7 linked regions of the Homo sapiens genome follow. The protein of the gene in region 4 purifies or fractionates together with the protein of the main gene of each other region. This does not show direct contact. Each region holds a gene or a part of one and is shown on either strand. Other genes may lie near its edges.

Region 1 (2,318 bases), on a different chromosome or scaffold from region 4:
TACTCATCTTTGTCCCCAGGAACAGAGAAGCAAAGGAAGCCAAGCTGGAAGAAGAGGGAGAAGAAGTAGGAGGTGGAGAGGGTGAGAGAAAGAGAGAGAATGAATGATGTAGACACAGAAACAGAGAGGGTTCCAGGCTCTGCTGCAGCTATCCTGCCCTCAGGTTTCTGGTGTCCTTATATTAAGACTCCCTCTGGCTGAAGCTGGCTTCAGTAGGACTCTGTCTCTTGCGAACACAAGAACCTGAATCATTGCACAAACTTCTTGGGGCACATATATAATTACAAGATAGCCTCGAACAGGAAGGAAGGGGAGTGAAAAGAGGCTTTGCAAGCGGAGGGCAAAATGTTGCCTGAAAAGAGGAAGGAAAAAGCGGGGCATGAAGCAATGGTGGTGTGGACAGGTTCCCCACAAGGCTCTGACAATGGGCAAATTGAGTTCTTTTAGGGGATGAGGTGGGGAGGAGTGGAGAGGGGAGCTGGGTGACCTATAGCAGTGCTACTCAAACTGTGTTCCTCTAAAAGGCAGCATCAGCACCACCTGGGTGTTTGTTAGCGCGGCAGCAGTGCCTCGGGCCGTGCTTTAGACCTGCTGAATCAGGACCGCTGGGGTGGGGCCCCACCTGTCCAGGTGTTTCAAAGGCAAGCTCAAGATTTAGAAGCAGGCCAAGCACGGTGGCTTCCGCCTGTAATCCCAGCACTTTGGGAGGCCGAGGCTGGTGGATCACCGGAGGTCAGGAGCTCAAGACCAGCCTGGCCAACATGGCAAAACTCCATCTCTACTAAAAATACAGAAATTAGCCGGGCGTGGTGGTGCACGCCTGCAATCCCACAATCCCAGCTACTCAGGAGGCTGAGGCAGGAGAATCGCTTGAACCCTGGAGGCTGAGGTTGCAGTGAGTGAGATTGTGCCACTGCCCTCCAGCCTGGGCAACAGAGTGAGACTCCGTCTCAAAAAAAAAAAAAGAAAAAAAGAAAAAAAGATTTACAAGCATCAGAGGCAAAGCCCTCAAGGCTCAGTCAAAAGCCACTTCTTCCATGAAGACTTCCTGGATCTCCAGTTCTACCTCTTAGGCTGGAAGTGCTTTGTCTCACCTCCAAACTGCCACATCGCCTTATCCTACAAAATAGATCACTGGGACATGTCCTCAGAGAAGGGAAGAGTTTCCCTCTCAACCGATTAGACTGAAAGTCCCTTGAGAGCAGGGGGCATTCTTAATCATCTCTGCATCTGCCACAGGACACCCTAAATACATGTGGGATGGATGAAGAGCCACAAGCTGGGAGGAAGAGAGCAGAATGAGCATCTGGGTTCCCAGCTGATGCCATGTGCTTTGCACACGTGACCTCATGCAATCATTCATTCACTCCACAAATGTCAAGTGGACCCCTTCCCTGATGCCCCTTGGGCCAGGGCTTGGCCAGCAAGCATTCCACAGGGACCATGGTGGTCAGCCAGCTAGAAGCCCTTCTGAGGAGCACCATAGGACCCCTGATTCTCCCTGCCACCCCCACTGGCCACCACAATCCTAAATATGACTGTGACCAGACATTTTTCCTCTCTCGAGCTTAGAGGTTTGCAGCCTGATTTGGCAAAGGAGTCATGGGTAGTGCCCTCACCAAGTCAGGGAAGAAGGCCGTTGCTTTTTTCCTCTCGGTCTTGAAGAGCTGTGGGATGTCAATGATGTCACACTCTGCCAGGCCCAGCTCCCGCTTCAGCACCTCACGGTTCCAGTCGATGCAGCTCTGGGGGCAGGGGAGGGCCAGAGTTGGGGACACCTTGCCAGTGTGTTTTGGGGGCACCAAGGCATCCTGTCGCTCCCCTCACTTCTTCTGGGTCAAAAGAGGGTGTTGGGACCCCTCTGTCTGGGCCTGTTCTAACCTGAGCTTTCATGAACAGTTAGCCTCAGATGTCTGTATCCCATCCTTGCCTCCAGCCCCGCCTACTCCCAAATCACAGCCCACAGGTACACCACAGCCCTTGTACCTGCACAAACTTATTGTAGTTGATGAGGTCTTTATTGGAGAGCACCTGGTTGATGGAGATGGTCTTGACCTGCTCATCATCTGTGAAGGAGAGAGATGAAAGAGAAGGACAGGGACAGCACCAACGTGAGGACCACCTGCTTAGGGAAGCAGACAGGCAGGAGCCAAGTTCACAGCTAATGGTCTTGCCGAGTCAGCAGCCTCTGACTTTCCCAGGCCTTGGGTGGGTTCCACCTGTCTGAGCTTGCCTTGGCCACTGTGCACATCTTGGGGTATAAGGAGTGGGAGGGTCTGGTTGCCACAGTGGAATGAACTGAGACCTTTATTTGAGTT
Region 2 (2,308 bases), about 78 Mb from region 4:
TCATATAAAATTAGCTAAAGTCTCACCAAATAACTAAAGCAAACAACTTCAACAGGATCACTGTTTCAGGTAATGAATATAAACAGGCTCAGGAAAGAATCTCCAGCTCCTTATAGGAGCTTATTCCTGACAGCACATTGCTCCACCCCCAATGCTTTAAGACTGCCTTAACCCTCCTTGACGCACAGCTGGCAGTCCTGGGAGACCTGCCGGTGTCCTATGGAGTAAAAACCGTGGAGCTTTGGCTATCCCTATCCTTAAAGCATTTCCAATACAGTGGGGGAAACTGCAGGCACCCAGATCACAAGGCACACACCCAAACACAAGTCACGAGATTGTGACTTGCTCAAAGATGGTATAGGCAAAACGCAAGTATGGCAGGGCCCGTGAACTGAAGGCAGGCTTCCTGTGAGAGCCAGGGTGACCTGGATGCTAAAGGCCGGAGGGATTTGTCCTGGCAGGGTAAAGGCGGCATGTTTACTTTAGGGAGAGCTGTGGAGAAGGACCAAGAAAAGAAGGAACAAATGGGAAAATTAGGGGGGCATATTCAGAACGTTCAGGGAATGATTGTTAGCGAGTGGTGGGATGATAGGAAACTTTTTGCATTTTTTTAAAACTACAGTGTAGGGAAAAGATAAACAGATGTAGTAAAGTTTAAGGGAAACCCGAACCCACCAAGACACAGAGCTCTGTCTGAAAATGGACTGCAGACTTTGTTTTGTTGACATTTAGGTGTTAGTTATATAGTGTGAGATTTTTAATAGATACCAATAAGAGTAAAATGCTAGCCTTAATTCAAATGCTATGTAAATAAAGCTATAAACAATATTCTGACCTATCAAGCCTCAGTGATCAATTTCTTTCTTGTATTCCAAAATACAGTTTTAGCCACACAAAAACATTTTTTAATAAAAAATCAGTCCTAAGCTGAACACACCTTTTGTGCTCAAACTGATCAAAGATAACAGAGAAAGATAAAACATAGGGCCAAATTCTTTCCCTAAAAGGCAAATATACATATAACATTTAAAATACCTTGTTGAGGACAGGTTTTGTTGACAGGACATCATACATGGTTTCAAATGAGATATTCTAAAACACAAGAAAATAGTTTTGTTCAGTAAGTTAAATACAGAAGCCAACAGCCTTATCTACACACATGGGCCACCAGAAACCAAGACATTCTTTAATCAACCTCCCCTCCATCCCCGCAGTGGAGTTTCTGTGGGAGTCACTGTTAGAAACACAGGTAACAGTTTTAATGGATTACTTTCCTCTCTCTCCTTCCCCTTTTTTAAATTCTTGCCTGTTTGTTATTCAACTTCAGAGTGGTATCCAGCATTAGAACCAGAAAAGGAAAGTACAGCACAATTTTGCTCTTTAAGTTAAGAAAACGAAACAAAAAAATCAGTGGAGAGTGGCTAGAGATACTATGAAAAATAGGACGTTTATAAATTACTTGAAGGCCAAAGAAAAATGCCAGAACCAAGGGAATCTTTAATGGCAACAGTTTCTTTCTATAGATGACCCTGCAAAGGTACCTCTTGGCTGGTGCGGTTCAGACACATCTTTGCAGGCGTTCTGCGATCATCAAGGAAGAAGGGATGTTTCCAACGGTCATAATTTGTTTGTACCACATACCATCTACCCTGCTTAGCATCGAGTCTAGATACAAAAGGAGAGATTCCCTCTTAGGCTACATGCCTTAAAACTCAAAGTATATCAGTGTATGCTTTTGTTTCTACTTCTTTTGCTTTAACAAACCTACTTACTCATATACATCCAATGATTCCTTTCTGTCTCGTGTAATCACACAACCTTCCCCAGACTGGTTGCCTCCCAGGATAAAGTAGGCTGGGGCCAATATCTTGGTCTTGGTCAATAAATTCTTGGCTTCTTCATAACTATATAGAAACATTTAAAAAGAAAAATGAAACTTTTTTTTAATTTTAGTAAATAACTTCATTTATTTTTAAATTTTACTTTAAGTTCTGGGACACATGTGCTGAACGTGCAGGTTTGTTACATAGGTACACACGTGCCATGGTGGTTTGCTGCACCCATCAACCCATCATCTAAGTTTCAAGCCCTACATGCATTAGGTATTTGTCCTAATGCTCTCCCTCCCCTTTCACCCCACCCCCTGACAGGCCCTGGTGCGTGATGTTCCCCTCCCTGTGTTCACGTGTTCTCTTTGTTCAGCTCTCACTTATGAGTGAGAACATGCAGTGTTCGGTTTTCTGTTCCTGTGTTAGTTTGCTGAGGATGATGGTGGGAAACATTTTTAGATGACTTAGAACGGAAATGT
Region 3 (3,274 bases), on a different chromosome or scaffold from region 4:
GATACAGATTGGGCTTCTTAGGACTTCTAAGGCACTAAAACCCTTTGTAGGCATTTTCACACCCACATTGGTGATTCCCAACCCTGGGTGCACATTAGAAACTTTAAATAGCTACAATGCTAAGGTCCTATCCTCAGTCTTTGAATCTGAATCTCTGGTTATGGGGGGGTCTCAGTATTTTTAAAAGCTCCTGAAGTGAGGATTTAATACTAGAATGCCAGTTTCTTAATTCAGTAGCCCATATTTGCTTTTCATTTTACTTGAGATTTTTGTTTAACATCTTCAAGTTACATTACTAAGACTTCTAAATTTCACCCCTAATCAAATCAAGACAGAAGAATCAAAAGACAACATTCTGAAAGTCAAGGCTTTAGGCATGGGCACACGTACTTCAAACCGGTATGAAATTACTAAGAGTCAGGCATAAGACACCAGCTCCCATAAATTTTATCTGACTGAAGATTATATCTAGCTGTAAAATTCAAAAGGACTACTCCCCAACTAAGATGTCTTTAAGTTCTCCCTCAGGTACTCACCTTAAAATGCTCTACAATTTTGATCAAAATCCAGCGCGCCACTCCCAGACCTACTGAATCAGAATCTTCAAGAGAGGAGCTTGAGAATCCATATGGTTTAACAAACTCCAGGTGATTATTTTTATTTACTTTTGAGACGGAGTTTTGCTCGTGTTGCTCAGGCTGAAGTGCAATGGTGAGATTGGCTCACTGCAACCACCACCTCCTAACTCCAGGTGATTCTTATTATCAGACAAGTTTAAGAAAAACTCCTAATGGATAGTGAAAGAATACTTAAGAAATTTTGGAGATGGCATAAGTGCAATAGCTATACCTTCACACTTAATTAGAACCGTGTGTTTTCCTATGACCAGCAGGGATTACTTTTATTAAACAATGATAATGGCAAAATATCTGGTTCAAAATCATCTCTGCTCAGATTTTGTTCTTTTTTGCCACTGATAGTCATTTGGAACTAGGAGGGGAAAAAGGAGTGTGTCACTTCATAGTTCAGTTTTAAGTTTCTCATATAAGCCATCCTGATCAATCATGTCTGTGTGCCCGTTCCAGCGGTGATAGGCAAGGAGTGCAGCGTTGTGGGCTGCAATGGCACTCATCTCCATGGCACTTGCTGCACACTCTATGCCATTGAGGTAATAAAGTCGATCATGGAGAATGATAGAGGGGCATTTCTCCGGGGGCTTATAGTGAGGATATGCAAGCCATGGCTTCTTCACAGCATAATCATAGGACAGAAAGAGCTTTAAAATTTGTGCTTTAGTAAGAGTTTCTTGGGAAAAGATCTTCCAAACATATGTTCCATCTGTTGATGGCTCAGGATCTTCCTTTTCTCTCACAGAGGGCACAATCCCAATACTGTTAATGAACAAATCTGAATTATCAGTGGTTAAAACTGTATTAAGGCCAAATTTATCTATGGGTCTAGAGCTAAAGATAGATGTATTCAATTCCCCCTTAACTAAAGTTGTCACTATATGTTGATAATATTGATGGAATTCCTCAATTGGAGGATCAAAGTTGAGAAAAGTAATATTCGACATTTTTCGATTCAACGGAGTGGCCACCAAGACGATGTCATAGAAGTCTGAACGAGTCTCAGTTCCAATTTGGTAGACCACTTCATACATCTTTGTTGGATTTCCTAGAGGAAATAAGGAGGCATATATTTGTTTAGTGTTTCTAACATACCTTCTAAAAATAATTGTATACCTTCTTCATAATTTCTCTATAATTCTAAAGAATTGAAGAAGTTATATCCCTTAAGATAGTTGTCCCTTGCATTTTTATTACATTGAGGCCAATTTCTTATTCAGAATGTCAGTAAGTACAAAATACAGAATTTTTACTTTTGAAGGTAAGATTATCTTTCGGCCGGGCATGGTGGCTCACACCTGTAATCTCAGCACTTTGGGAGGCCGAGGTGGGTGGATCACGAGGTCAGGAGATCGAGACCATCCTGGCTAACATGGTGAAACCCCGTCTCTACTAAAAATACAAAAAATTAGCCGAGCGCGGTGGCAGGCGCCTATAGTCCCAGCTACTCGGGACGCTGAGGCAGGCGCCTATAGTCCCAGCTACTCGGGACGCTGAGGCAGGAGAATGGCGTGAACCCGGGAGGCGGAGCTTGCAGTGAGCCGAGATAGGCCACTACAGTCCGGCCTGGGCAAAAGAGCGAGACTCCATCTCAAAAAAAAAAAAGATTATTTTTCAAATCCAAGGAGTGATGCCACAGCACTTAACTACACTGGGGAATTTTTTTTTTTTTTTTTTTTTTTTAGATGGAGTCTCACTCCGTCACCCAGGCTAGAGTGCAGTGGTGTGATCTTGGCTCACTGCAACCTCTGCCCCCTGGGTTCATGTGATTCTCCTGCCTCAGCCTCCCGAGTAGCTGGGATTACAGGCACCTGCCACCACGCCCGGCTAATTTTTTGTATTTTTAGTAGAGACAGGGTTTAACTATGTTGGCCAGGCTAGTCTTGATCTCCTGACCTCAGGTGATCCACCCTCCTTGGCCTCCCAAAGTACAGGGATTACAGGCATGAGCCACCGTGCCTGGCCCATTGGGGAATATTTCTATATGGTACAATATATACAATTTCAAGTTTCATCATTTTAGAACTGAGTAAGAGATGACAGAAGAGAAGTGTTTCTCCCTGAGCAATCATTTTCTGCAGGGGATATCAGGAACAATAAGAAATTCAAGCTTACCTGTGTACTTGGTCTTTGTTTTCTCCTCGATGTACATTACTGAGCCAGATATAAGATTGCTTTTGGATGCCTGCAGAAGCCCTGAGCAAACAAGTTTATTGCCACCTTCTACTGCCCAAAGGCCAGAATCAGAACAGGACAGTGACACCGCCCCTGTCAATAGGAGGAAAAATGTGTTTTAATTCTGACTTTTTGTAAGAGGCTCTCTACCCACTCTCCCTTCCCAATTACATGTTCTACTCCAAATGTCTCTAGACATTGCTAAATGGCCCCTGGGAGCAAAATCTCCCCCAGTTAAGAATTACTGAACTAATGAAAGCTAAAGACCCTCTCCCCCTAAAAATGCACATCTACATACGCACAATTTTGCTAACAATGTCTGAGGTTCACAGAGAAAAGTAGCCTCCAATCCACAGCCTAAAGTCAGGAACCACCATAGCATCAGGTAAGCCCCTCTGTGAACTAATGTCCACCACTGTTTCAAGCCCTGGCTTACCCACAAAGGCATTGATGTCCGTGCTTTGGCCATA
Region 4 (2,594 bases):
AAGGTTCGTTCTGATGTTTCTTCTTCTTTAAGGAAATCTTTAGCCATAGAAGTGTCACTTTTTTTTTTTCTGCAAAAGAATTCCAAGATGAACGGGTTGAATGAATCATGCCAGCCAGGGTCACATCCTGTCCTCAGGGGGCCCAGTGCTCAATAGTAGATTCTGCGGGAGTGGAGAAGCGTCAGTGGCAGCTCCGCTCACTTGGTGAGTGAGGGATTTGGCTGTGATGAGCCTCAGCTCCGAGCTCTCAAATGTCCTCCAGCCAGCATCTGCCTGCTTCCCACAAAAGGATAGAAGAGAGGCAAAGTGCGTGTTTCATAAAACCTGCCTGCACTTTTATAACCCATCAAAGAGGCCATTTTTAAACACAGGTACAATTTAAACATGATCTTTCTTTGCAAATAAATATGTTTTGTTTCATCCTGTGTTCTGCTTTTCTAAGCATGACATACTTGTGCCCATTGGAGAAGACACCTGTCTCTTCTTTCTCACACCGGTGGTGCCTCACTGAGTGTTTCCGGGTTCATTTTCCGGGAGCACTGGGCCTGACACTTTCACACTCTTCTGACTTTCGCCTTGTTGCAACTGATGGAGCATGTGTGCTTCCTCTGAGGCCAGCCTACAGGAGGCAGCTGTTTCGCAGGTGGTGAATTCGACTTTACTGTGGCATTGTGAAGAGCAGGGTGCACAGGAGATGATTTTTTCTCCATGGCTTTGTAAGAAACAGCCAGGAAAGTTCTCAGATACTTTCCATGCCCTTTCTTTGAGTTGAAACTTTCTATTTCCCTTCAGTCAGAGCTCTTTACTATAGTAGTTACAAAACCAGTGCTTTCCATGGCTGGCCAGAACCACAGCTGCTATTCCTTTTAGAAGCCATACTGCTGGGTTTGGCCTACTTTTTTCACCGTTTCTATGGAAATAAACCTCACATTGATGGAAATAGAATGCGTGTTTCAGAATCATCATTCAATATCTGAAATGATTTGATTGTAAATTATCTCATGGTCCCTGTTTGCAAACCACCCTCTTAAGAGAGAACATTGTTTTGGACCTAAAGCTTGAAGAACGGTTTATGTATTTTTCTCCTTAAGTAGCATTGCATTGAGTGTTAGGTTCTTTTCCCTTTTTTTCATTCTTGGTCTTCCCAAAGCTTCTTCCCACATTTCGTTTGTGTCTGTTTCCACCATTCATAGAAACCTTGGAACCACTCTCACAGCAATGCTAGGATGTTTCATGGACCTGTTAAGCATTTTGATGATACAAGACATCCTATCAATGCCAGTCTTATTTTCGCTAGGACTCTGCTTCCACAGTAAGCTCCTAAGGTGCTCACCCAACCCAGGAGAAAACAAAATTCATTACCAAATACAACAGGTTCAGCCTTCTTGGTCTTCCCTCAGAAGCCACCGTGTAGCACCCTGGAATGATGCCTCTTTATGCCAAGGCCCACCCTTTGGAATTGGGAGGGTTTTGGGTAGAATCCTGCACTTACAGAGGCCCTTGGGGTCATTGAGAAGTGGAGGAGGTTGGACACAGAAGGGGAGGCTAAACACAAGGTGGGGAAGAAAAAATGTAACCATTGGCAGCCAGACTGAAGCTAGCCCTTTAAAATACGGGGTTGGGGGGTTAACATCCGCTCTTTGGAATGTGCTCAGTGACTGCTGCAGAGTTCCTGGGCCACCCTAATGTTTACCAGGTGGGCGTTGTTTATATGGTTCTTATTGTTATGACAACTAGAAATCCCACAGTAGACTAGACAGTGCTCCCTACCATTTCCCATTTATAGGATTGAAATCAAGATGTAAGGAGAGCTGGCCGGGCGCAGGGCTCACGCCTGTAATCCCAGCACTTTGGGAGGCTGAGGTGGGTGGATCGCCTGAGGTCAGGAGTTTGAGACCAGCCTGACCAATATGGTGAAACCCTGTCTCTGCTGAAAATACTTAAATTAGCCGGGCATGGTGGCAGGCACCTGTAGTCCCAGCTACTCGGGAGACAGAGACAGAAGAAATGCTTGAACCCAGGAGGTGGAGGTTCCAGTGAGCCGAGATCACGCCACCGCACTCTCTAACCTGGGCGACAGAGCGAGACTATCTCAAAAAAAAAAAAAAAAAAAAAAAAAAACTGTAAGGCGAGCTAAGACGTCTGTCTATCAGTGTTCCATTACATAATACACCTCTTTCCTTCACATGTGTGTGCACATTCTCAGGATTATATTAGAGATTTGATTCTTTGCAAGGGTCAGTATCAGTAATGGCTGAGACTGGTGGGCTGCAGTCATGTTGCTATGCCGTAAGAGGTTTTTACAACATTTCCCCTTATCACACTTTATTCTAACCTGATGATGGGCCTATCTCAGGTGAAGATTGCAATAGTTTCCTTAATTGAACTTTGGTATTTGATGCATTAAATAAATATGGCTTTTTAATTTTGCTATCTTCTGTGAATTTAAAGGAATTATTTCATTGATGTCTACCAAAGAAGATAAAAAAACAGTTGGATGTGAAATTTTTTTAGGTTGTGGGAATGCTACGTTGTAAAAATCTTCCTTTTCTTCCATGTTCACTAAAAAATGCCTTTAGTCCATTTCAGAAAGT
Region 5 (3,500 bases), on a different chromosome or scaffold from region 4:
ATTGCAGGAAGTGGCTGACTCCACAGAGTCAATCCACTTGCTGGAGGGGGTCCTGGTGAAAGAGTCTGAAAGACCACAAGAACTAAAAGAAGGAGAAAGAAAGGTCAACCACAAAGTGGCATTCGCCATGGTATTAACCAATTATTCATAGCACAGCCTGGGAAAGTGGAATGAACCTGCACGATGACAGCTGACATGCTGAGAACTTGATGCCCTGGGGGAGACTTGGCTGGGACAATGCAGCTGGAGTCCCTCCTCATGCCCAAAACCAAAACAGGCCACCCTCCTCTCTGCATCAAGGCGTGATTCCAGCAGCCAGGGCTATTCAAGTATTTCCTTCTGCAAAGAGTTGTCATCACTCCGCGCACATTTAAGCAGATCGCAAGCAGCTATTGACTCTGTTTTTCGCTGGTACCTCTGGACTGTCAGTTAATAACCTGGAGTTCATCTTGCACAAATTGTAGAATTGGTTTATGTGAAGCAGAGAAATGATCTCGAGCTAGATGTCAGCACCATATCCCCCGGCAAGTTGCTGCTCCTTTGATTTCAGAGATGTACCATGTAAGTCTTTAACAAAGTCCATAAGACCAGTCAGAAAAGATGAAGCAGTTAGGGGACCCAGAAGAAAAACTAAGTAGGCACAAAGGTGAGTTAGGAAACTGGTCAAATCCTAGCAAGCCCCAGGCTTCCATCGCAACCAAAGAAGTTAAGGAGGTGACTTTGTGACATCACTTTTTTCTTCTTTAGACAGAGTCTCCCTCTGTTGCCCAGGCTGGGGTGCAGTGGCACAATCCCACCTCACTGAACCTCCACCTCCTGGGTTCAAGCAATTCTCCTGCCTCAGCCTCCCAAGTAGCTGCGATTACAGTTGTGTGCCACCACGCCTGACTAATGTTTGTATTTTTAATATAGACGGGGTTTCACCAGGTTGGCTAGGCTGGTCTCCAACTCCTGACCTCAGGTGATCCTCCTACCTTGCCCTCCCAAAGTGCTGGGATTACAGGCATGAGCCACTGCGCCTGGCCAAGGTGACTTCACTTCTGCTGCACAAGCAATAAACCACCTGAAAAGAGGGTCTGTTTCCTAAGGATGCTATGCACAAAGATGTTCATTGCAGCATTATTTACAACAATGAAATATGGGAAGCAATGTAAAATCCAGCAATAGGAAAATGGTTAAGAAAATTATTCTACATCAATATGTCATTTTACACCCATTAAAAACAATATCAGACAGGTGCAGTGGCTCATGCCTGTAATCCCAGCACTTTGGGAGGCTGAGGTGGAATGATCACTTGCACCTAGGAGTTTGAGACCCACCTAGGCAACATGGTGAATCCCTGTCTCTACAAAAATAAAAAATTAAAAAAAAAATACAAAAATTAGTTGGGTGTGGTGGCACACACCTGTAATCCCAGCTACTCGGGAGGCTGAGCTGGGAGGATCATTTGAGCCCAGGAGGCTGAGGCTGCAGTGAACCGTGATTGCACCACTGCATTGCAGCCTGGGTGACAGAGTGAGACTCTGTCTCAAAACAAACAAACAAAAAACAAAAACCAACAATGTCTATGGAGAGGCTAAAATAATATTCATAAAATGTGATGTTTGGCATAAAGATAACAAAGCAGGATGGTAGCTGCTTGCATATATTGTGGGTCATAACTATGTAAAATATAAATGGAAAGAACACACATAGAAGTTTTAACAGTGGTGAGATCATGAGTGATTATTTTGCCTTTCCCTTTTTAAAGAATAGCCCACATTTTCCAAAATTAGCTTATATTATTTTTATAATAATATAAACCAGAGGTTAGCAAATTTCTTTCTGCAAAGGGTCATAGAGTAAATATTTTTGGCTTTGCAAGCCATACAGATTATGTTACAACTACTCGATTCTGCTGCTGCATGGAGAAAGCAACCATGCACAATACATTGTAAACAAATAGGCATGGCTGTGTTCCAATAAAACTTTAAATAAAAACAAGCAGGAGGTTGGATCTGTCCCATGGGCTATAGTTTGCTGATTCCATAAACCTCAATGAGACTTTTGAAAGTTATTCCATGTTCAGTGACATGGAATAATTGCCCTTTCATTAAGTACTAGCTATCACCCGGGGAAAGTTTTCTTCCTAATCACAGGGAGGTTATGGGTCCTTAGGAAACGGTCCAGCCCCTGGAAATTGCATTTGACAGGCAGGGTCAGAGACACAAGGCATAGCTGCTCGTGAGGAACAGCATTGCCTCTCTCTCCATCTCTCTGTCTGAGCTGTCACGCCCTTTCTCTTTGCCTAAGTTATTCCCTATGTCTCTCTGACCCCCTTGTACATCTCCCTCTGCCCCCAACTCCATCAGTTCCAGGAAGAGAAGGAAAGAAGATAGGGAACCTGAGTGGATTGTAGGGCCAGGGCTGGGAAGCTTGGGAAAGGGGGAAGATGTCTCTGTCTCACTTACATTGGATTCGAGGTCACCGGATGCAGGATGACCTGGGGCGCCCGGGTCGGCGTCTCCGGCACCGGCACCACATCTGAAAACCAGAGATTGAACACTCAGAAAAAAAATGTGAAGTCCACAACCCCCGCAAAGGCCTGATTCCTGGGCGACATGGCAGCCAATTTTTCACCAGATCTTGGATCTCTGCCCTTGGCCAATCTCCTTTCTCCTTTCCTGGACCACCTGGACTCTACCTGCTCAGCTGGACCAGGGTTCTGGATGACATCCTCAACAAAATTCCTCATTGTTGAATAGGGGGCTGCCAGAACCCTCAAATATCTAGCCTGAAGCATTCATTGGTCATCTCTGAATCTTTCTTTCTCCTGGGTTCCCTTTGGGATGATAAAGCCCCTTGGTTTCACATCCTCTCAGTACCCAGCTCAGGACCCTATGACCATCTCTTTCCTGCCACATGGCTCTAGACCCCTCCTCACCCTCGCCCAGTGTTCTACAGCACTCCACCCTCTCAGGCCTTTCCACGGTGCCTTGGGACCTCCTTGGGTCCCACTGTGCCCACTCTTTCTTCTCCACTTCCATGTTCAGCCATTATCCTGGAGTGTGGTGACTCCACTACCCTCTTTGATCTTAGGCACCCCCACAACATCTGCCTCCATTCATCCCAGAAACTCCTGCAATGCAGCGGGGCTTGTTCAGAAGGGGCTGCTTCCAGCTCACATGAAACTCACCTGGGAAGATGAACTGCTGCTTGTATTTGTAGTAGTGGGATGCTTGCAAAAGAAAGAAAACATCAAAGTGAGTGTCCCCAGGGAGACATCGCTTCAGGGACCAGATTGAGCTCTTACAGCCACCACATGGTCATTCTCTGCCCACCTTCAAGAGTTTCCATACTTCTGCAGACATCCCTGCAGACAAGGGACTGCAAACATGTGTAAAGAAACCAGAACTCTAAACATCCATGCCGACCCTCCCATCTGACATCTCACACTCCCTAAAATCAGACTGCTCCAACTCAAACAGACATTCTGACTACAATACCATTTTTGTGAAATG
Region 6 (2,757 bases), on a different chromosome or scaffold from region 4:
TTTCTCTTTCGGGGAACCCCTAGGAGGCAGCCCTGGGGTCTCCTTGCAGGTGGTCAGGCCCACAGACACCTGGAGAGGGAGGTATTTCCACATGGCTGTCTCTTGTGCCCGCTGCTCCCAAAGCCCGTTCCCTGCCTGGCTGCGGGCAGGGACCTTCCCCCACAGCCCTGCCCAACCACGATGCAGCACCCCAGGGACACGGGCAGCTGAGGACAGCCGCCCAGATAAGCTCAAGTGTCCACTGAGAGGCTGGCAGGTGGTGACGCTGGGAGTCTCAGTCGGGAGGAGGCCCTGCCCCGGCGCACCTGGCCTGGCTCTGGCTCTTTGGGGCTGCTGTGGCTGTTCAGCCTCACCAGGTGGCCCCGGCTCAGAATAGAGGCCCCCGGCCCTTGGTGGCCCTCTTGCCCACCAGAAAGTGCTGCAAGCCCCCCGCCTCCGGCACAGGCCCCCTGCAGGAGTCCCAAAGGGGCCTGGGATGGGGGCACACAGAGGGCAGGGCCAAGCCCTGGTTTCTGGACTGGCTGGGCCCGGCTGCGTGTGGCCTTAGGAGCCCCAAATCCTCTGGACAAAGCCGAGGAGGAGGCAGCCCCACCCCAAACCCAGGGGTCTGTCTGCACCCAACTGCCAAGAAGCCTCCGGTGCTAGGAAGAGACACCAGGACCTGGGAAAAGGATTCAAGGAGGGCCCTCCCCCCAGTGCCTCCCTCCCCACCCTCCCCTCTTCTCCCTCTCAACCCTCCCCTCTTCTCCCCGCAGCACCTCCCTCTCCACCCTCCCCCCATCCTCCCAGCGCCTCCCTCCCCACCCTCCTCCCCCATTCCCCCAGCGCCTCCCTCCCTACCATTCCCCTCCTGTCCCCGCAGAGCCTCCCTCCCCACCCTCCCCCTTTCTCCCCCCAGCACCTCCCTCCCCACCCCACCTGCTGAGGGGATACTCTTCCTCCTCCCTCCTCAGTCCTTACCTCCCCACTCTGCCCTCATCTCATTCCAGAACTTCCTGCTCCTGGCCCTCTCTCTCGCATCATGGTTTTACAGATGCTGTTCCTTCTGCTGGGAACACACTTCCTCCTCTTGGCCTGGCTCACCCCACCTTGCTCTGCAGCTCTCAGGTGAAGGATGACCTTGGGGGCCTTCCCAGAGGCCCTGGGCCCAAGCCAGGCCCCAAGAGCACCCTGCACAACCATCAGGGTTTCCACTCCACGAGTGGGGAATTCCTCGCTCCACATTTCTCCCGAATACAACGCAGATGGAGTCCAGCTCCGGGGCCTCTCTCAGAGCCCTGCACGGAGCAGGTGCTCAGCCCATGTGACCTCCTGCCCCAGCACCTGTCTCTGAGTGGGGCTGGCCTGGCTCCACCCTGGGAGCACCTTTCTGACTCTATGGGCTGGGTGGAGGACCAGCATGCTGGAAGTGGAGTCACAGGTCACAAGGATGTGGGGAATCCCAAGAGCAGCCAGTGGGCTGGAGCCAGCCCCGCCCTCCTCTACTCACCAATGCCTGACACAGTGCCCCAGGCCACAGCCATAGCCAGGTGTGCCATCTTGGGCCCAACACCCGGCAGCGCCACCAGCTCGGCCACAGAGGCTGGGATGTCCCCACCGTAGTGCTGCTGCAGGATGGCGCTGGTCTGCTTGATGTATTTCACCTTGCTCTGAAAGACAGGGGTGGGTTCAGCCTTGGAGGCAAGGGCACAGCCCAACCTGGGAGGATGCAGCCCCCAGGAGACCCACAGGTGGCCAGAGCTACCTGCACCTGCTGAGGACGTGTGCAAGCTCAGCCCCCGCCCCCCAGGAGGCGGGAACAAGCGGAGGGCAGCAGGGAGGCCCAAGGTAGGCCTGACCCCCTCCTCCCACCCGTGTGGGCCAATGATGCACGTGTAGGCTCTGGCTGGGGTTCCCCTGCCCGTCATTCCCTGCCAGCACCCAGGCCAGGCCAAGCAGGCCAGCCGCTCCCAGGAGTGGGGCTTGGCTGCACCTGCGCCTTCAGGAAGGAGGGCTGGAGCTGGGGCTTCCCCACCAGCTGCCAGGCCTGCCGGGTGGTTCCCATCCTGTGCCTGAGTGGAGAGGGCTATTTAAAACCCATCTGAGAAACTGCGGCCCACGCGGGTGCCAAGGGGAAGCGGCCCCACCCACCAAGCTGCTTTCAACAGATCCGCCCACCACCATCCAGTGCTCGGCGGGGTTGGGGAGCAGCCTCCCCAGGGCTCCTGGAGGGTGAGGGGCTCTGGACAGGAGGGGGTGACACACCGGGAGAGGCTAGCAGTAAACAAAGGGAAAGGCGGGTGGGCAGGCAGCCTTGGCGGTGAGGAAGGGTGGGCAGGCGGCGAGGCGGGGAAGCAGAGGAAGGAAGGGAGGATGCGAACAGGAAGGCCAAGGAGCTGCTGGGACTGGGCGTCAGGCCTCAGGGCCCCACGGCCTGGGGGGGGCTTCAGGGGGACCCCCCGAGCCTGAGATGCTTGACCCTCACTTCCTGCACCGTCGCCACCCCCCTCAGCCTTCTGAGGTCTCTCTCAGGCCACTGCCACCCGGCCCCCGTTGCCACAGGCAGGGCTCACCCTCCAGAAACCGACGGGGTAGATGAGCTTGCCCAGCGTGGCATCATCTGTCTGCAGGATGCTGTCCACCGTCAGGCCCCGCGCCCGCAGTCGCTGCATGGCGCCCGCCGTCACCTGGTCTTTGGTTTGGCTGGAGAGCATCAGTGACAGCAGCACCTGGTACCTGCGTACCTGCTTGTGCAGTGACAGGGACCGGGGTGGCGGC
Region 7 (3,500 bases), on a different chromosome or scaffold from region 4:
TCTGCTTCTATGAGTTCTACTCTTTGAGATCCCACATAAAAGTGAGACCCTGCGGTATTTGTCTTTTTATGCCTGTCATATTTCATGGAGCATAAATTTTCCAGGTTGTTGCTGCAAATGACAGGATTCTTTTCCATTGTTTTAAAGCTGTGAAGGCAGCACCTGAAAATTGTTAAGCATCCAGATCTGTGTTGGCTGAACATTTGTGGCTGGCCCCATGGATCCCTTACTACTTTTTAGTATCTATCACAAATAACTTAAACCTCTATCAAGAACAGAATAAAGAGTAAGGTTTAGAGGGAAAGATGTTCCAAAGAGCTGGGAATTTTAAAGTGACACTTTGTATACACACAAACAGACAAAACATGGCAACAAAAAGAACAGAACAGAATGAAGCCATTTACCTCCTCTTTGGCAATGCGCATCTCATCTGTAACATTAGAGAACACTGTGGGCTGGACAAAGTAGCCTTTATTCCCCCACGGGCCTCCTCCACATTCCAGTTTGGCCCCTTCTTTCTTCCCACTCTCAATGAGGTCAAGTATTTTATCATATTGTTCCTTGTCAATCTATTTGAAAAATATCACATGAAAAGAAAAAAAGTAGTCACTTGTAAAGATAACACATTGCTGGGCCTGTTAACAAGGGCTTCAAAATGCTAAAATATTGCAATTAAACCAAATATTGAATCGAAACAGCTAACAGAGGTTCAGATTCATTCTTTGGATATATTTTCTTCTCATGACTTTTAGGGGAAAATCTCTTGAAGACAGATATTTGTATTTAACATTTGTTTTATAGTTATATAGGAAAGCATTCAGCACTGCAAACACATAAAAAACACATAAATGACAATCATCATTTATTCACTCTGGAAGAAATGCCTGTTAATCTAAATACATTTACCTGGAAACTATTGTCCCGGCTGAAATGAAAGGAGGGAAAAGAGAAAAACAGAACTTTGATACTGAGTTTAATTAGATCTGTTGGGAAGCAGATGCTTTAAGACTGTTCTTAGAAGACTCCCGAGCCTCTGTTTGATCTCCCCATTTCTGAATCACCCACTCTGACCTGTCCGATGCCCTTGGATATCCCATTCTGACCATAGTCTGCGCACCCTTCCCAGTTCTGGTCCCACTGGGGCAGTCAGTAAATCTGCTTCCAATTTCTGGCCTGTCCTGAATGTCACCATCCTGCTTCATTAAATGAGCCACATCTAACTATGTGCCAAGTATTACAGAACTTAAATCGTCTTTATTTAAACACTATTTTTATAAGGAAAATAAATGAGTTTGGAGTTCTGGTTGTGAACACCAGGAACACGTACCTCTTCAAGCACTGAAATCTGGGGCTAATTTTTGTCTCAATTTCTATTTTGTGACATTGAATAACTGGGTGACTCTTGGATTCCAAGTAACCGGTGAGGGCTGCCTATCTCAGGTGTAGCAGGGGTTAAGGATTAAAGGAAAAACAGGAGATCTAGGAGCTAAGATGGGTTGGAGGGTGGAAGCTCTTGTAGGTTTAACTTCCCACTACTTGAAAAGTTTTATGTTTCACTTTCTCTTACTCTTCTCTGACTCTGCAAATCTTCTTTATCTTCCAAAGCCAAGAAAAAGCTTCCATAAAGTTATTTCTAACTGAATACAGCTCAGCCCCCATATCTAACTAGATTAAGCACTATTTGAAACTAGAAACTATTTTCTAAAATTTGGCACAATATTTGGTACAATGTTGCTCAACAGTCTTTAGTGCAATATTTAATATAATATCCCAGAAGGAAAATATTCCTTCATTTCCAGCAGATTAAGAAAAAAATAGTGTTAAGAAGAAATATTTAAATTACTACATAGGTTGAATAGTAGCAGACTAAGGGGTGGGGTGAGATAAATTCTGCCTGGGTAAGGTATTCTAGTTTCTCAATAAATAGTCAAGGGTCCATGTCACTCCACATAAAGCTTTCTGTCTTATTGGAACATATTAATCTGACTATGCCCTCAACATCATGATATCTGGTTTTTATTTCAAGATGTATTTCCCAAGTCATGTTTTCCTGTCTGTGACCACGTTGAATAACCAGTGCCAATCAAATCCCTGCATACATACTGGAGAAAAGGGCTGAAAAGCCTTATTTGTTGGAAAACTTAGATGGTCGCTAACTTATAAAACTACAGGCCTTTGTATTTCAGTGCCTTGCTACCGACAATGTGGTCCTACAACCAGCAGTTGTGGCATCACTTGGTAGCCAAATGTGCTTCTTTGACCCCACCTCAGATCTACTGAATCCCCGGGCACAGGAAAGATTGAGGAACACTGTGGTGGAGCTTGGGACTACAAACAAAAAATTAGGCTCTACTTAGAGACTGGTCAGTTTTGTCTGGCTAATTTTGATTCACCACAAATACAGACCTTCTTCAGAAGGCATCAGGCTGACCATATATAAACTTGACCTTCTTTCTGGACACCTGGGACTGTCCAATAATGCTAGGATGTAGCTGGGGCTCTTTCATGTGATGGGCCATTGGCCTATGGGCTAGTCTATGAAATGTATTAGGTAGGTCATGATATGGTAACAGTCTCAAAGGAAACATTTTAAGGTGTTTGAATGGGTAAATTCTTTGATTCCTTAGGCTTAATGGGTTAAAGAAGATGAATTGGGAAAAAGCACTTACATGTTCTCAAATTATTCAGAAACCATGTATCAACAAAAGCAATGAATAGATATAGAAGTAATTGATCTGTATGATAATTGTCACCATGGGTATAAATGGAAGCATGTAATTTTTATTTATTTACTAGACATTTGAGCATGTGGACCAAGCACTCTGATGGATACATTTTATAGATTATCCAATTGCACTGCAGAATTATTCTTCAAGATTGAGGTTTCTATGCACATTCTACACATAAGACAATAGTTTCAGGGAGGCTGGATTTTAAATCCAGTTTAAATCCTATATAACTGTAACTCCAAAGTCCATCTTTCCACACTATTATAAGGTGCTACTCTGTGATAATTTTAGTATCGTTTATGTGGCTATCACAATTTCTGTTTCAAATGAAAATACTAATTTTTCCAAGTTTAAGACAATATATATTTTTTCTATAAAGTCAAATAGGAAAATCACTTGAAATATGAAAAAGATACACACATGAATCCACAGATATAATACAAATATGCAAAGTATATATATATATTTTGTAATTGCTCTAACCCCCAAATAATTTGTAATGTTCAAATTTTTTTAAACTTTAATTTTTTCCCCTAAAACAAATCGTTTTGACCATTATTTTTTCTATAACCTTTTTGATGTTATATTTAATGAGGAAGATTCCATCATTGTATTTAAAAGCCTCAGTTCACTCAACCACCCCTGGATGAGGCAATAGGCTAAAGCTTAGTGAGTGAGTATCCCCTTTGCGTAAGTTTTTTCTCCTAACAATAGATGAATATTTAATGGTAAAGGAGCCCAGGGCTTTTTAGTCTTTTGTTTCTCCAAATT

Evidence for each region.
Region 1: the proteins of PTDSS1 (region 4) and PADI3 purify together in Homo sapiens (affinity purification with mass spectrometry; one large-scale study listed by BioGRID and IntAct). This does not show direct contact.
Region 2: the proteins of PTDSS1 (region 4) and ASAH1 purify together in Homo sapiens (affinity purification with mass spectrometry; one large-scale study listed by BioGRID and IntAct). This does not show direct contact.
Region 3: the proteins of PTDSS1 (region 4) and PCYOX1 purify together in Homo sapiens (affinity purification with mass spectrometry; one large-scale study listed by BioGRID and IntAct). This does not show direct contact.
Region 5: the proteins of PTDSS1 (region 4) and KSR2 purify together in Homo sapiens (co-immunoprecipitation; one large-scale study listed by IntAct). This does not show direct contact.
Region 6: the proteins of PTDSS1 (region 4) and NTHL1 purify together in Homo sapiens (affinity purification with mass spectrometry; one large-scale study listed by BioGRID and IntAct). This does not show direct contact.
Region 7: the proteins of PTDSS1 (region 4) and ALDH1A1 purify together in Homo sapiens (affinity purification with mass spectrometry; one large-scale study listed by BioGRID and IntAct). This does not show direct contact.

Annotation. Positions count from the first base shown.
Region 1 is NC_000001.11:17,280,098-17,282,415, reverse strand, and holds part of PADI3 (protein-arginine deiminase type-3), read right to left. Parts: intron 2,067-2,318; coding exon 1,987-2,066; intron 1,746-1,986; coding exon 1,620-1,745; intron 1-1,619. UniProt on the Homo sapiens protein: Catalyzes the deimination of arginine residues of proteins.
Region 2 is NC_000008.11:18,057,800-18,060,107, forward strand, and holds part of ASAH1 (acid ceramidase isoform a preproprotein), read right to left. Parts: intron 1,905-2,308; coding exon 1,773-1,904; intron 1,666-1,772; coding exon 1,542-1,665; intron 1,093-1,541; coding exon 1,036-1,092; intron 1-1,035. UniProt on the Homo sapiens protein: Lysosomal ceramidase that hydrolyzes sphingolipid ceramides into sphingosine and free fatty acids at acidic pH.
Region 3 is NC_000002.12:70,275,137-70,278,410, reverse strand, and holds part of PCYOX1 (prenylcysteine oxidase 1 precursor), read right to left. Parts: coding exon 3,241-3,274; intron 2,898-3,240; coding exon 2,745-2,897; intron 1,678-2,744; coding exon 1,019-1,677; 3' UTR 1-1,018. UniProt on the Homo sapiens protein: Prenylcysteine oxidase that cleaves the thioether bond of prenyl-L-cysteines, such as farnesylcysteine and geranylgeranylcysteine. Only active against free prenylcysteines and not prenylcysteine residues within prenylated proteins or peptides.
Region 4 is NC_000008.11:96,334,902-96,337,495, forward strand, and holds the end of PTDSS1 (phosphatidylserine synthase 1), read left to right. Parts: 3' UTR 1-2,094; downstream 2,095-2,594. UniProt on the Homo sapiens protein: Catalyzes a base-exchange reaction in which the polar head group of phosphatidylethanolamine (PE) or phosphatidylcholine (PC) is replaced by L-serine. Catalyzes mainly the conversion of phosphatidylcholine.
Region 5 is NC_000012.12:117,528,491-117,531,990, forward strand, and holds part of KSR2 (kinase suppressor of Ras 2), read right to left. Parts: intron 3,218-3,500; coding exon 3,176-3,217; intron 2,524-3,175; coding exon 2,451-2,523; intron 568-2,450; coding exon of another isoform or gene 507-567; exon of another isoform or gene 56-506; intron 1-55. UniProt on the Homo sapiens protein: Location-regulated scaffold connecting MEK to RAF. Has very low protein kinase activity and can phosphorylate MAP2K1 at several Ser and Thr residues with very low efficiency (in vitro).
Region 6 is NC_000016.10:2,042,078-2,044,834, forward strand, and holds part of NTHL1 (endonuclease III-like protein 1), read right to left. Parts: intron 2,724-2,757; coding exon 2,553-2,723; intron 1,650-2,552; coding exon 1,490-1,649; intron 1-1,489. UniProt on the Homo sapiens protein: Bifunctional DNA N-glycosylase with associated apurinic/apyrimidinic (AP) lyase function that catalyzes the first step in base excision repair (BER), the primary repair pathway for the repair of oxidative DNA damage.
Region 7 is NC_000009.12:72,911,554-72,915,053, forward strand, and holds part of ALDH1A1 (aldehyde dehydrogenase 1A1), read right to left. Parts: intron 570-3,500; coding exon 405-569; intron 1-404. UniProt on the Homo sapiens protein: Cytosolic dehydrogenase that catalyzes the irreversible oxidation of a wide range of aldehydes to their corresponding carboxylic acid.